Linked DNA regions of Homo sapiens. The protein of the gene in region 2 purifies or fractionates together with the protein of the main gene of each other region. This does not show direct contact. Each region holds a gene or a part of one and is shown on either strand. Other genes may lie near its edges.

What was found.
Region 1: the proteins of ZNF517 (region 2) and LIPC purify together in Homo sapiens (affinity purification with mass spectrometry; one large-scale study listed by BioGRID and IntAct). This does not show direct contact.

The regions. Positions count from the first base shown.
Region 1 is NC_000015.10:58,550,484-58,554,292, forward strand, and holds part of LIPC (hepatic triacylglycerol lipase precursor), read left to right. Parts: intron 1-3,809. UniProt on the Homo sapiens protein: Catalyzes the hydrolysis of triglycerides and phospholipids present in circulating plasma lipoproteins, including chylomicrons, intermediate density lipoproteins (IDL), low density lipoproteins (LDL) of large size and high density lipoproteins (HDL), releasing free fatty acids (FFA) and smaller lipoprotein particles.
Region 2 is NC_000008.11:144,797,551-144,801,946, reverse strand, and holds the start of ZNF517 (zinc finger protein 517), read right to left. Parts: upstream 3,035-4,396; 5' UTR 3,010-3,034; exon of another isoform or gene 2,460-3,009; coding exon of another isoform or gene 2,444-2,459; intron 1,092-2,443; exon of another isoform or gene 975-1,091; intron 1-974. UniProt on the Homo sapiens protein: May be involved in transcriptional regulation.

The DNA.
Region 1 (3,809 bases), on a different chromosome or scaffold from region 2:
ACAAGGATCCCTTTGTTATTAAGGAAGACCAAAGAATTGCATTAGGGCATCATTATCTCACCCACCAGCTACCAAAACCAACGTACTCATCCATCCGTATATTCTTCAAACACAGTCCTACCCTCAGGGGGCTCGGTGGAGACTAACCCACGATGAGTTCCTTGGAGACCACATTTGTGTCTCTTTATTACCGACTACTTATCTTGCTCCTGGGACATCTAGTGAGGAGGAGGTTAAGGGCAGGACTGACTGAAACTGGTCAGGAACCGAAAGCCCCAGGCTGGAGGGAGGTTCCAGTGCCGAGCTGTGGCTTGTACCACACCCTCTCCTTTTCTTTCTTACTTTTTTTTTTTTTTTTTTTTTTTTTTTTTGAGACCAAGTCTCACTCTGTCGCCCAGGCTGGAGTGCAGTGGCGTGATCTTGGCTCACTGCAACCTCCACCTGCAGGGTTCAAGTGATTCTCCTGCCTCAGCCTCCTAAGTAGCTGGGATTACCAGCGTGCACCACCACGCCCAGCTAATTTTTGTATTTTTAGTAGAGACGGGGTTTCGCCACGTTGGCCAGGCTGGTCTCGAACTCCTGACCTCAAGTGATCCACCCGCCTCTGCCTCCCAAAGTGCTGGAATTACAGGTGTGAGCTACTGTGCCCAGCCCATACCCTCTCCTTTTCTGCTCCCCCACAAATTCTCCCCAGTTCTCCTGCAGCCCCTCCAGTGAGCAAAGTCCTCACCCGCTCAACCCAGTTTCACTTGCTAGTGGAAAGTAACGTCTCTGTGGTCACATCAAGCCACCCTGGGCATGGCTGGAAAGTGCACTCATGCGAGACTCGCCTGTTTGAAGCAGCTGCTCATGGGATACTGCTATCTATATAATGTTATGTTATCCAATGTGGTAGCCACAAACCATATGTGGCTATTTAAATCCAAATCTAAGTTACTTTAAATTAAATGGAACCAAAAATTCAGTTTGTCAGTTACACAAGCCACCTTTCAAGTGCTCAAATACGTGGCTGCTGCATCAGAGAACACAGAAATAAAACATTTCCATCGCCGCGGAGAGTTCTACTGGTGATGCTGGGATGAAGATTTTAATCTAGGCCACCACAGCTACACCACTCCCTGCCCATCACAACCGTGATCATAACTGACTTGGGCCCCCAAAGCCTATTCCACCAGCCACCTCCAGCATTTTGATGAATACATATTACACTCTTAAAAGAGCAGACTTGCCCAACCCCGGCCTACAGAGAAACCACAATCCCCATTTTTCAAAAACATCTAATTGTACAATGTATTTTAGTGCAGGGTCTGGTTGGGCAAGATAAACATCGCCTCCTGATTGTAGTTTCACAAAGGATGACTAACTTGGCCTGAATTCCTCTGGCTCCCAAGATATTTCGACAAAACCATCAAAGGATCTATTTTCTACAACTGTACACCAGAACTCGGGTAAACACTGCGAGAGTACAGCAGTAGCAAGAGAGAATTGGGAAACAGTCGCCGAGTGAAACGAGGCAATTTATCGCCCACTTCCATTCTCACTCTCTCACAAGGAACCTTTACCAGTTTGGGAGCCTGTTTTTAAGGGAGGGGGAGGGAAACGGATCTGTACGGAGTAAATCCTGTTTCGCCAGTGCCTCCTCTCATTTCATCCTCAGAGCAGTCAGATGAGGTAACCGGGTGGAGAGGAGGGAAGGGGCCCTCGGGGGGCACTCTGCCCGGGCACTGGGCTGGATGTGTTGTACACGTTAGCTCATTTCCCATTTGATCCTCACAGCAACCCCCAGACAGGGAGAGACACACGCACACACAGAGACACGGTCAGGGCAAAGTCACACAATTTGTGAGCAGGAAGCATCGCATTGAATCCCAGCCTTTGCTCCTTTTACTGCACTTGGCCTCGGCGTAGGACCAAGGCCCTCGACTGAGTGCCTCTCCCTCCTGCGGCATTCCAGCTGCATGTCCCGCCTCCTCCTCTCTGCCCTCCTTCCACACTCCCTCTTCCATATCTCCTCCACTCTTCTCCTGTCTTCCCCGTGCTGCCCTTCCCCCTCCCCCGCCCCCTCACCCACGGCCCTGCACTCCAGGCTCCCTGGGTCGGGGGTGAGGGGCACTTGCTTCTGCTGCTCGCCGCAGCCATGAGAGCACCCTTCCTTGCTGGTCGGCGAGATGACGAGCCAAGCTGTGACTCGGGCAGTCGGTCTGTTTTTGGCTTCTCTCAGCTACTTCTTTGGAAGGTTTCCACTGACTTCAGGGAGAGTTCCAGAAGAAGCAGGGGGTGTCGTAGACAGCACAGGCTTGGGGTTGGGATAAGGAGTGTCAAGAATCTTGGCCTTGCTGCCAACCACTTATGTGACCTTGACCTAATGACAAAACCTATGTGGGCACCAAGGAAGAGGTGTGAATAGACATGGGGATGAACCACTAGCACGGGACCTGCAGGTGGGTCTCAAAACCTGCCCCGGTCAGTTCAGTGTGGAGGAAGGAAGTAGATGACACCCGATTAACACCTTCTGGAAGGCAGGCATTTTTTCATCGCCATCTTATCACATTTTTACAGCGACACTACAAGAAAGTTCCTAACCTGCATTCACAGATGAGGAAATCGAGCCCCAGAAAGGCTATGTGGTCTCCAGATCACAAGGAAGCAGGCATCAGAGAGGACTCAAACCCTGGGCTCTGTCTATCCGTTGAGGGCCCTTATTCCACCCACAGCACAAAGAGCTGGCAACAGGACGCCAGTCAGCACAACAGTCCTGGCCGCACACACACACTCCCCCATCTCCACCGCTCGCAGGCAGCAACAGACCCCCACAGAAGGGGCAGGCATTGGCCAGGCACGGTGGCTCACACCTGAAGTCCCAACACTCTGGGAGGCCAAGGTGGGAGGATCTCTTGAGCCCAGGCGTTCCAAACCAGCTCGGGCAACAAAGCAAGACGCCATCTCTACAAAAGAATTAAAAATTAGCCAGGTAGAGTGGTGCATGTCTGTAGTCCCAGCTACTTGGGAGACTGCAGGAGGGTTGCTTGAGCCTAGAAGGTCAAGGCTGCAGTGAGACATGATGGTGCCACTGCACTCTAGCCTGGGTGACAGAGTGAGACCCTGTTTCAAAAAAATTCAATTTAATTTTAAAAAGAAAGGGGCAAGCATCCAGTCTCGTGACATCAGGGCATCACTTAAATGGGACTGTACTGTTAAACCAAAATGTGGCCACGAAAATACCGACACATACAGGTGTTACATACAAAGGCTAACAAAATCACTTTCCCTTTTTCTTCTTCACTCGCGCCTGCTCTGAGTTAATTCACTTTCATTCAGCCTTGCCGGCACTGGCTGCCTTCTTTGGGCAGCAACACCCTGGACAACACCATCCTGGGCCCCTCAATCCTATGATCTTCAGCTTCCCTCTGAGTTAGAGGCATTTCGGGTCTAGGAACAAGCCCTCTGGGCTTGGAGAAAACACAAGAGGTCTCATTCCTACCATCTCCATGAGAGAAATCCATACACGGAGGGGGAAAAAAAAAAAGCCCTCTTTGATGTTTGCAAAGAGAGTCATAATATCTCCCAGAGCCAACATCTAATGATTCAGAATCATTGTTTCTGGGAGGCAAAAAATAGAAAGAAATATATTCTCTTTTCATAAATTCAATAACCTGATCTTGTGAAAAGAAAATGTAAGTTTTTTCTTTTTTAAATGGCACCAGCAGGGTCCACACAGGGTTACAATCCAGGATTTTTCCTAGTGAGGAGACTCTCCGGAGGCCTCAGATTTCTGCTGTAAATGGAGTTTCCCTGATCACATTCGAGGT
Region 2 (4,396 bases):
ATCCTCCCACCTCAGCCTCCCGAGTAGCTGGAACTACAGGCGCATGCCACCACACCCAGCTAATTTTTAAAAGTTTTTATTATTGATGAGGTCTTACTATGTTGCCCAGGCTGGTCTTGAACTCCTGGACCCAAGTGATCTCTTGCCTCGGTCTCCCAAAGTGCTGGGATTACAGGTGTGAGCCACCACACCCGGCCTCTTTCTATTTTTCTAATTTAACACTTTTTTGGCCAGGTGCGGTGGAGACAGAGACCATCCTGGCTAACACGGTGAAACCCCATCTCCACTAAAAATACAAAAAATTAGCCGGGCATGGTGGCAGGCACCTGTAGTCTCAGCTACTAGGGAGGCTGAGGCAGGAGAATGGCGTGAACCTGGGAGGCGGAGCTTGCAGTGAGCTGAGATCGCGCCACCGCACTCCAGCCTGGGTGACAGAGTGAGACTCCGACAACTCGCTCTTGTTGCCCAGGCGGGAGTGCAATGGTGCAACCTTGGTCATCCTGGGAGGATCCCTTAAGCCCAGGAGGCAGAGGTTGCAGTGAACCGAGATCATGCCACCAACTCCAGCCTGGGCGACAGAGTGAGACTCTGTCTCAAACAAAACAAAACAATAATTTTGCTCTAAGCAGACGTATACAGAGTAGGCATGAGGCCCTGTTCTCCTCACTCTTCCCTTCAACAGACACTTGAGCTCTTGTGTTTGGGTGAAGGTCTCCGGGGCTATCCATTTCTGTAGAGCTGGAGCCGTCTAAGTAGCTGCCACTTTGTAAAGAGATGTTTCCCTTTAGGCATCAGTTAACAAAAAGCATGTGTTTAGAGGCCAGGCACAGTGACTCATGCCTGTAATTCCAGCACTTTAGGAGGCCGATGAGGGCGGATCATTTGAAGTCAGGAGTTCGTGACCAGCCTGGCCAACATGGTGAAACCCTTCTCTACGAAAAATACAAAAATTAGCCGAGTGTGCTGGTACGCACCTGTAATCCCAGCTACTTGGGAGGCTGAGGCAGGAGAACTGCTTGAGTAGACAGAGGTTGCAGTGAGCCAAGTGTGCCCCGCTGCACTCCAGCCTGGGCGACAGAGTGAGGTTCTCTCTCAAATAAAAATAAAGAGTGCGTTTAGAGGCAGGAGGGCTGCTTGGTCACAATGCTATGAAGTGACATTTGGCAGCAGAGCCCTTTTGACATGTTAGGGTACGAAGGGCGATGGGGGTGGATCAGACAGATTCGTGAATCACCCCTGCACAGAGGGCACAGACTGCAAACGCATGGAAGAGCAGGGCCACACCACCCCCACCCAGCCCCCACTCACTGTCTGTCCAGGGCAGTCTGTGGCAGGACCCACCTGGGCCACTGCGATGGCCACACGTGTTGTCCTCACCCCAACAAGGCAACCAGAGTATCTCAGGGTATGAGGCTGCCAGAAGACTTGATCCCCGACCCCTCAACACATACCACCCTCCACTCTGGTAAGAACTGCAACCCAGGACTAGGGTAGGACTTGGACTAGGAGCGGTAAGTTACTGCTGCTTTGTGTTTGCTCATGTCTAGGGAGTGCATGTCCTCAGGGAGGGGCTACCTGGTTAGAGGGGAAAAAAACCTGCTTTTAGTTCTATCTTCGGAATTAGGAAGTAAACCTTCAATCAGATTAAACAGCACTGAGCTAAAAATAATGGAGCAGTGATATGATGACAACAGATCAAGCTGTTGCTGAGACAGAAAATGTCAAGGGGAGGAGGGTGCTAATTTTAGATGAAGGACCACCAAGAAATGTTACTGGGGGAACTCATTTAACTGGGGTCTGGAAGACTAGGAGGGGTCACCTCCTTCCATACGCAGAATAAGCCCTGTTCCTCGGGGACCTGGGGCACCCGGCTCACTACGCCGCAGCCATGCCAGCCTTCTCTCTGTTCCCCCGCCTGGGAGTTTCTCCTCAGGGATCTGTGGCTGCTTCTCTCCTCCAGCAGGTTTCAGTTCAAATGTTAACTCTTTTTTGTTGTTGCTGTTGTTTGCGACAGAGTCTCCCTCTGTTGCCCAGCCTGGAGACCAGTGGCGCGATCTCGGCTCACTGCAAGCTCCGCCTCCCGGGTTCACGCCATTCTCCTGCCTCAGCCTCCCGAGTAGCTGGGACTACAGGCGCCCGCCACCACGCCCGGCTAATTTTTTGTATTTTTAGTAGAGACAGGGTTTCACCGTGTTAGCCAGGATGGTCTCGATCTCCTGACCTCGTGATCCGCCCGCCTCGGCCTCCCAAAGTGCTGGGATTACAGGCGTGAGCCATTGCGCACGGCCAAATGTTAACTCCTTACAGAGCCTCCCCTGACCGCCAAGGCTACCCTAACCCCCTAACTCTCACAATTTTATTTCCTTGGTTTATTCTGTGCGAGGCCCTTGTCAAAACCAGAAGTTATTTTGCTGCGTTATTGCCTGTTACACTAACGCCTCACCTCTATTACAATTCATGCTCCTGGAGGCGAGGCGGGCTGTTCGCTCACTGCGGGGTCCCCAGCACCGGAACGCTCACAGTTAAATACCCAACAGCTATTTACGAAATGACTGTTGGTCCAATAAATGCCCCAACCCGGGGAGGGGGCAAAACTGCGCAGGGTAAATGAACGCTGCGGGAAACGGCGTCCGCCGGGGAGCGAGGCTGCCGGGAAGAGCCCGCCATCGGACGGAAGCGAGGGGCAGAGCCTGGTCCTCCCCGGAGCAGCCCCACCTCGCCAGGCCTCCCCGCCTGCAGCCTCATCTCTGCGCAACCGTCCGGCTCGGCGGAGCGGGTCTCGGGGGCCCGGCCGCACGCCCCCGACCACAGCCAGCATGGACCGGGGCGCAGGGCCCTTCGCCCCGATAAGGGTTCGGAACCCAAGGCGAGCGGAGGCGACAGTGACGGCTGCGGGTCCGCTCCCTGCCGAGCTCCGCGCGCCCACTGCGGGGGCTACAGCCTCCACCAGGCCGGGCTCGGAGGACCGCGCCCCTCCCAGTCCCCGCCCCGCGGCCGCGGCCGACTCACCCTGGGCCGCCGAGACAGCGCGGGGAGGAGCGCACGGCGCCCGGCTCTCAGGCTCCGGTTCCTTCCCCGCCCCCGGAAACGGCCGCTGCGCCGCTCTGGGAGGCCTGGAGGACCGCGCGCCTCGATGGCGCTCGCGTCTCGACGGCTTCTAGCCCCTGCGGCGCGGCGGTCGCCAGGGCCCCAGCTAGGGGCGCGCCTGGGGGGTTCCGGGCCAGACCGGGTATCAGTCCCAGGCCCGACGGGCGCGGAAGGGCGTCGACGTTCTCGGCGCTCCGTTTCCCCCGGGATCGGAGGCAGCGAACGTTCACCCCTTGCGCCCACTCTCTGCCCCCGGGTGGCCTGCGGGGGTTGGGGAGCACGGTGGGGGATCGACTCCCGGACCCGCAGGAAGGGCGGAGCGGGGGCGTCCGGCCAGGGTCGGTCTCATATAAATTTATGACATTGTTTAGTATGACTTTTTTTTTTTTTTTTGAGCCTGAGTCTCGCTCTTGTTCCCCAGGCTGGAGTGCAATGGTGTGATCTGGGCTCACTGCAACCTCCGCCTCTCAGGTTCAAGCGATTCTCCTACCTGAGCCTCCGGAGTAGCTGGGACTACAGGTTCCCACCACCACGCCCGACTAATTTTTGTATTTTTAGTAGAGACGGGGTTTAACCATGTTGCCCGGGCTGATCTCGGACTCCTGATCTCAGGTGACCCGCCCGCCTCGGCCTCCCAAAGTGCTGGGATTACAGGCGTGAGCTACCGCACCGGGCCAGTTTCTGGGATCTTGAAGTGTCTTTGCTGCTCCCTCTGATCACTCTCAGACCACCTCTCCTGTCTGCACCCAAGGGTGGCCATTCTGACTTCTAACAGCCCTGTGACTTCTGTAAACATTTGTATGCTCTTTGTATTTACTAATTTAATCCTCATGGTAATCCTATCAAAATACTACTGTTCCCATACTAAAATGAGGAGAGCATAGTGTCCCTGTTATTTGCCAAGGTCTAGTCTCTTTTTTTGAGACGGAGTTTCACTGTTGTTGCCCAGGCTGGAGTGCAATGGTGCCATCTTGGCTCAACATTATCTCCACTTCCCAGGTTCAGGTGATTCTCCTGCCTCAGCCTCCCGAGCAGCTGGGATTACAGGCATGCGCCACCACGCCCGGCTAATTTTGTATTTTTAGTAAGGAGGGGGTTACTCCATGTTGGTCAGGCTGGTCTCTAACTCCCGACCTCAGATGATCTGCCAGCCTCGACCTCCCAAAGTGCTGGGATTACAGGCGTGAGCCACTGTGCCTGGCCAAGGTCTCATCTCTTAAGTAACAGAGCTGGGATCCAACCCACAGACCTGGCTCCAAGTCACATATTCTTTAGCCACTAAACTGTGTTGTGAAACCATCATGCAAGT